Homo sapiens: one gene and its partner. The protein of the gene in region 2 interacts with the protein of the main gene of each other region in a pairwise test. Each region holds a gene or a part of one and is shown on either strand. Other genes may lie near its edges.

What was found.
Region 1: the proteins of TMEM132D (region 2) and NAMPT interact in a two-hybrid assay, tested with the Homo sapiens proteins (one large-scale study listed by BioGRID).

The regions. Positions count from the first base shown.
Region 1 is NC_000007.14:106,264,484-106,267,983, forward strand, and holds part of NAMPT (nicotinamide phosphoribosyltransferase precursor), read right to left. Parts: intron 689-3,500; coding exon of another isoform or gene 670-688; exon of another isoform or gene 1-669.
Region 2 is NC_000012.12:129,075,026-129,078,525, forward strand, and holds part of TMEM132D (transmembrane protein 132D precursor), read right to left. Parts: intron 51-3,500; exon of another isoform or gene 35-50; coding exon 1-34. UniProt on the Homo sapiens protein: Regulate neuronals morphology via inhibition of the WAVE regulatory complex (WCR), a complex that controls F-actin cytoskeletal dynamics.

The DNA.
Region 1 (3,500 bases), on a different chromosome or scaffold from region 2:
TATACTTATCAGTTAAGCATCCCCAGTTCTGAAATCTGAAATCCAGTTCTGAAATCTGAAATGCTCCAATGAGCATTTCCTTTGAGCAAAAAGTTTCAGATTTTGGAGCATTTTGGATTTGGGATGCTCAACCTGTGTAAATATTTGTTAATATATAATGTAAATAATTTTAAAAGATCTCAAACAACTTAATTTTGAAAATTACCATTTAATTATGCCAAGCAATTGGTCATTCTCCCTAATTTTCTAGTCCGCCTCTAATCTGTTCTCCTCAGTAAATAATAAAAAGATAGCACATTCATTTATTATAAAGCCCAAGTAGGTATAAGTTTAACTCATAACTGTTTGAAGAGTCAGACTTTATGTCTGAAATAATCACTTTATACAATGTGTGTGTGTGTTTTTTTTTTTAAAGGACTAGACTTAGAACCTTTCCCCATACTGTCAATGGTATACCTGGGGTAGTGCAGCATGCACATTTCAAGATTGTAAAGACTACTACCCGAATCCAAAATTGAGAGAGAACCTGTTTATATAAAACTCATTAGTGAACACTCTTCTTAACAGCTACAGAGGCTGCCAGTAGCTATGATGTCAATTCTCTACTTCATGCATCTGTAGGCTAAATGGAAAATTAAGATATGACTGAAGAGAAGCTCCTCTTCATATTCAGGTCTGCAACTTTTCTCTTTAAAAAGGAGAGAATTAAGATCAATGAATACCAATACTGGAGAACTTTACAACGTATGAATTAACTCCTACAGTTAAGGGGTCACTACTTATAACGTTGTATCAGTAAGTCACCTAACGATCTACTTGTATCATGTCTAGCAAACTTCACTGTCCCCATCTTACTTGCTTTCTCCATGACACCTGAATTTTCCTGATGCTTTCTTTCTCTTGACTTCAATGACATCTCCCATGTTTCACCTTTTTTCCCCTATTTCTATGGTTCCCTTTTCAGTCTTCCCAGATGCTGTGCTCTCCTTCTTTAATCTAACCTGTCAGATGGCAATATTTCTCATAGTTCTGACTTAGGCACTTGTCTTCTGTAACATACCTTGTGTGAAACACTCAAAAGCTTAAAAAAAAAAAAAAAAAAAAAGTCCCTGCATGAGGGTTTCCAGTATCTGTATCTTAGCCTCTGTTTTTCTTCCAGGCTCTGGATCTACTTTGTTAGATAGAAAGTTGAATATCTTCATCTCAGCATCCCACAGATACTTGCTCTGGCACTCTCTGTCTAGTCCAATCATAACCTCTATTCTTCTAGTACAGTATGTGATATATGAAGATCATAAATAATCAATGAATTCTACCAATGCCATAAATCCTAATTTCAAGCACCAAATTAAATTTGATACCTTTCCAAAGTTTGAGAAAAAAAGCTTCTGTAATTAAATATTTTTAGGTGCAGATTCATCTATTAAGATACATACAATAGTGGTAAACCTCTAAATTTATAGAGTTCTCTTATTTTAAAGTTATTTAGATAGTAGCTCATTTATCATCAATGACCTTGTCATGTTGGAGATGTAAAACTTTAGCTCCTCCTTTTGTTTGGTTGGATGGAAGAAATGAAGAACAGAGAGATAAGTGACTTGCCCAAGGCCACCCACTATGTCAGCCGGAAGGTCACCCAGGTTTCCCAACTTTCAGTCCAATCCTCTTTTTGCTATACTACGCTGTTGTTTAAAAGACATTCTATTAAGAACATGTGAGGCATTTGAATATATAAGGAGTCAAATTTTACAAATGCAATCAATATGAGACCATAAAAATAAAATGGATTTTTATCCCTTGCCCACATACAGTATCCTTTTCATTTTAACAAGTCCTAAAGAAGATATTATCCTTGTCCTCCGTATCATGATGTTACTACTTTGAAATAACCATCAACGAAGAGTCTAATATGTGCATACTATGTTAGATTTTTAAAAGATGTATGTACATCTAAGGCCAAACTAAAAATAACTCTTAAAACTTTGTTAAAGACACTCTTATTTTCCCAGTTTCCTAGTCTTGAAAGTTGTATGTAAAAGTGTTCAACAAGGCCTTACTAATACAATGCTCATAAACGTCAGCTGAATCTATTTTCTACTGAGTCCCAACTCAAATTACCAACTTTGAGCAATTTTATCTCCCAAGCCATTGCTCATGTTTACCTATTTCTTTCCATTTATTTAGCACCTTGGTCTGGACTTCATTACCTTAAGACTGCTGGAATAGCTTCCTATAAAGACTACCTTCTGATTTTTCCTTTTTTCAATCCATAGGATAGATATCCTGCTATAAAAATATAAAAAAGTCCCCTAAGATATTTATCTCATAACATCACGTCTTTGCTCAAAAATGTCAGTGCCTGCTTCCATTTGAAAATGCCTGATTTAGAATAGCTAGCATGATGTGCACATAGTTAACATTCAGTGTCAAAATATGAGCGCCCTTACTAACCTGAACCTGTCTTCTCAGTCTCCCCTACGCTCCCTACAAAATCTGTGTTTCAGCCCTTATTCTCTAAACATTCTCCCTCCTCTTTCATTCTTGTGCTTTCATCACAATGCTTGATACAAGATAAGCATGCAATAAATATTTACTCAGAGAATGAATAAGTGCCCAATGTTGGCTATTAAATTTTACCAATCCTTCAAGAAGTGAAGATTTTGTATATTTCTATAAAAGCTTTCTTGATCCTGCTAGTGAAGGAATATGATTCTTCCTCTCCTTCCCTTGCAACACTACAGCATTTTAATTGTACCTCCTTACGAGGAGTTAACCAACAGAGCAGACTATTACTAGTGTATTATTTTCATCCTGAGAATAGGGTCAGTTTTTTAAAAATATCCTTCTAACCCTTGTTGCACCCAGTAGACTGCCTTGCATATGAACACCAGTCAACTAATATGCCTCAAATAGTAGCAACAATAAAGCTTAGCTTGATTCTAAACTCACTGCTGGTTTTAGCACTCTGCAATTTTAAGTATTAGCAGAACTTAAATATTCCCTAATGATTATAGTAAATAATTTTGTTATAAAAGTCAGTGATAAGGTTTGGCAAACATTTAAAAAACCTGATTTACGCCGGGCGCGGTGGCTCACGCCTGTAATCCCAGCACTTTGGGAGGCCGAGGCAGGCGGATCACGAGGTCAGGAGATCGAGACCATCCTGACTAAAACGGTGAAACCCCGTCTCTACTAAAAATACAAAAAATTAGCCGGGCGTAGTGGCGGGCGCCTGTAGTCCCAGCTACTTGGGAGGCTGAGGCAGGAGAATGGCGTGAACCTGGGAGGCGGAGCTTGCAGTGAGCCGAGATCCCGCCACTGCACTCCAGCCTGGGCGACAGAGCGAGACTCCGTCTCAAAAAAAAAAAAAAAAAAAAAAAAAAAAAAAAAAAACAACCTGATTTACTTTTAATAAAGTTAGCTCTAGGACCAGAGCAGCTGCAGTTTAGATTGTAATTTCTTTCTTGGGTAACTGGAGATAGTTTACTGAAAGCAGACAA
Region 2 (3,500 bases):
CACTGAACTGGACCCAGCAACTGATGGCTGCTTCCTATGGAGAAAAATATGTAAGTTAATCAAATGGGCCAAAAAGCTCATTGAGCCCCAAGTCTTAGTACAGTAGACACACAACGGCAAAACTATTGCTACAAGAACAAAGACAAACCTTTCAAACAGTGTAGAAATAAGCGATAAGAAGTACCAAGAGTATAAAAGAAAATGAATTCTCACAAAGATGCAAAAAAGCAAAATAAAACAACAACAAAATGACAAAACAGGGCCAGTATTAAACAATCCGTAAGAAGATTTGCTTTTTTTTTTTTTCTCCTGTAGGTGTTGTTATAAAAGGAAGATGGGCCCTTGGGCTGTTCAGAATCAACTTCTGAACAATAATAAATTGCACGACAAAGGAAATTACTGGTTAGTGGAATCATTTACAAGTGTTACACATTCAAATGAAAAATATTTATTACATTATTTTTAAGTTGTAATACTGAGTCTCCACTGATTACTGGCAATACAGATAAAAGCCTCTGATCTAGATGAGGTCCCACTGCAGGGCTGCAGGCTGTGGTTTTGCCAGCCCTGCCTTTTCTGGGTCTGCAGGAGTGGATCTGTCCTGGCCTCAGGCCATAGTCTTGGCTTGGAGGGAGGAGTTAAGCCTGACAGCAGGAGAGGGAGAAGCATCTTGATTGGAGAGTCTTCATCTCTTCCTCCACCCAACCCAACTGGAGGAAACTGGAAGACCAAAAAGCAGCCAGAGCTTGTTTTCACTTTGTTGATTTAGACCAACTTTCTTTGCAAATAGTTTGACCAGGCAGATCATTGGAGATAACCTCCAATTTCATGCCAGCCTTTAATTTTAGTGAAGATGACATTATGCTTGACAGCAGTGGCAGATCCATTGCTTCCTCCCTCCCTCCCTCCCTCTCAGAGAACCTGCTCCGCCCCAAGCCCGAGATGATGAACAGCACTAGGTGGCCCATGACCCTGCCCGCTGGGCCACAGCAACAGCTGATTGAAATGAGACAGCTGCTGCCATTAGAGCCATCAATCTCAGCAATGCTGAGCCAGCCAGCATTACTCTCTCTCTCTCGAACTTGAAACCAGAAAGACAAGACTGACAAAGTTATGCTTGGGAAGATGTGTAGTGGGGGCACATATAAAATTGGGGAATGAAGCCCTCTGATGGACTATGTATAAGCAAATGTTTGGGCATGGCATTTATCCATAGGAAGACAATAATGAATTAGACCAAAATAAAAACACAGGTGAGAGAGAGAGTGGGCATGAAAGTGCTGACCTTCCCTTTCCTCCAAGGTCTTGCAGCTGGGTTCTGTGAGATCCCTATAATCCTCATAACACATCCTTTGTTATTTAAGCTTTTGCTTGAGTGGATTTTTTTTTCTCTTATGACCTACTGGCCCCTGACCATGACAGAAGTAATTTTACACAGTTGTTGTTTAGTCTTTGGAAGTAAGAAGAAAGTCTCCTCAAATGTGGCTGGTGGCCTCTGCTCTTTCCTTCAGCTCAGCCAAGAAATACTTATTCTGTTAGACACTGGCTTGGACTACCTGCTAAGCGGATAACCTTGCCAAGGCACAGTGCAAAAGCTACTGGACATGACACTGACTTACCAGGTTCTCTCAATCGGCCATGAAATCTGAGCAGAGCATTCAAACGCACAACGGAGTTCTTGAAACTACCACTGTCAGAGCCAAGTTGCAGGCAGGGAGTAAGAGCCCTGCAAACCAACCATGGAGCAAATCTCAGGGTAGCGTGTTTAGCTCTGCATGTCAGGAACGGATTAGCCTTCTGGCCTTCTTCTAGCTGCATCTTATCCCTTCCTTAACGCCTAGCTGGTGGTCCGCTGATGTTATCACCCACAAAGACAGAGAAAAGCCTCAGGTTATTTCTTCATTGCTATCTGTAACTTGCCTCTCGGCTGGCATCCTTCCTTGAGAAAAGGAGGTTTGCTTTGGCCAAGAATTCGATTCTGTTATTGGGATCAACCACTTTCAAGTGTTTTCTAACCCAAAACTCTGCAAACAAAGACTGTAGTATAAGGACTAGGAGATTAGCTCATGCCTGAGAGGGGAGCATTATGTGACAGGTGCAGGCTGGGAAAATGGGAAGGCTCTTTGTGCCCCTTAGCAAGTCCAGTGTGGCACTCCTGCCTCCTCTGAACATGGCCACAGCCGCAGCTGGTGCATGAAGGCAGGGAAGGCCTGGTACCTCACCCTGCCGAGGAAGAGTGCGCAGAAAAGGCTCCTGATCCAGAAGGGAAGCAGTCAGAACAATGTCCCATATGGGCCGGAGGGATTCCAGCTGCCCCACATGAGGATGATCCCTTTTCATGGGGCAAAAGAACTAATGACCTGCAACCACCATGTTTTGTTATTAAGCAAGCTTCACCCAAATTCCTATGTTCTAAGAAATAATGTTTATCCACCTCTAATGAGGGAGAACTTACTACATTCAAAGGTCCCCTATAACAGTCCCCTTTGTAAGCCATTGTATCCACATACAAACACATGCATCACACACATACACACAACACACATACACATATACATGCACACAGGCACCTATACAACACAAGCATACACACAACAGAAAATACACAAGACACACATGCATACGGACACACATAAAGCAAAAACATATATGACACAGACCCACAACACACACACATATGCACACATACAAACAACAAATAGACACATGCAATGCATACATACAACACACGATACATTCACAACACACATATATACATGCATACAGGTGCCTATACAACACAAGCACACATGCAACACACAACACAAAACAAGCAACACAAAATACTGACACAAGACACACACATGCATACACAGACACACAAAAACAACATATATGTACACAACACATAGACACACAACACACATATACATATGCACACAACACACAAAACACACTCTATTAGCTCACACTGGTTCCAAATAAAGTAAAAGAAAATTGTGACTGACATCTCCATGAATTCTCTGTTTCTGCCTTGAGCTGAACAATGAATGGTCTGGAAGCGATCTCCCGCCACAGGCTCCCCACTCAGCAGGTCTGTCACCCTCCGCTCCAGCAGGACCTTGGCATCAGGCTGTGCACCTGCTCTGAGCCTGCACGTGCCCTCATGCCCTCATGGAAGCAGGAAGCGTGTGGAGAGCACAGGTGACCACCTGCATGCACTTGCACTATGGTGGATGAGGGGTGGGCCTTTCCTCCAGGGCTCCTGCCCCTTAATGGCTTCTCATTTTTCACATGTTGCAATCCTTATGTATATATGTATTTATTTTTTTCATCTCTGCATGGGGGAGCTGGGAAACATGAGGCAGAGGAGTCACCTGCTTCAGAAGAGCCCTTTGCAGATGGAGAAACAAACGCCCGATATATGATCCCACTCTATTGTGCGACCCGCCTGGCGTGGTGCCTGCCTGGTGTGTGATCCACTTGGTGAGGGACCCTGCTGAAGTGTGTCTCAAGCCCTC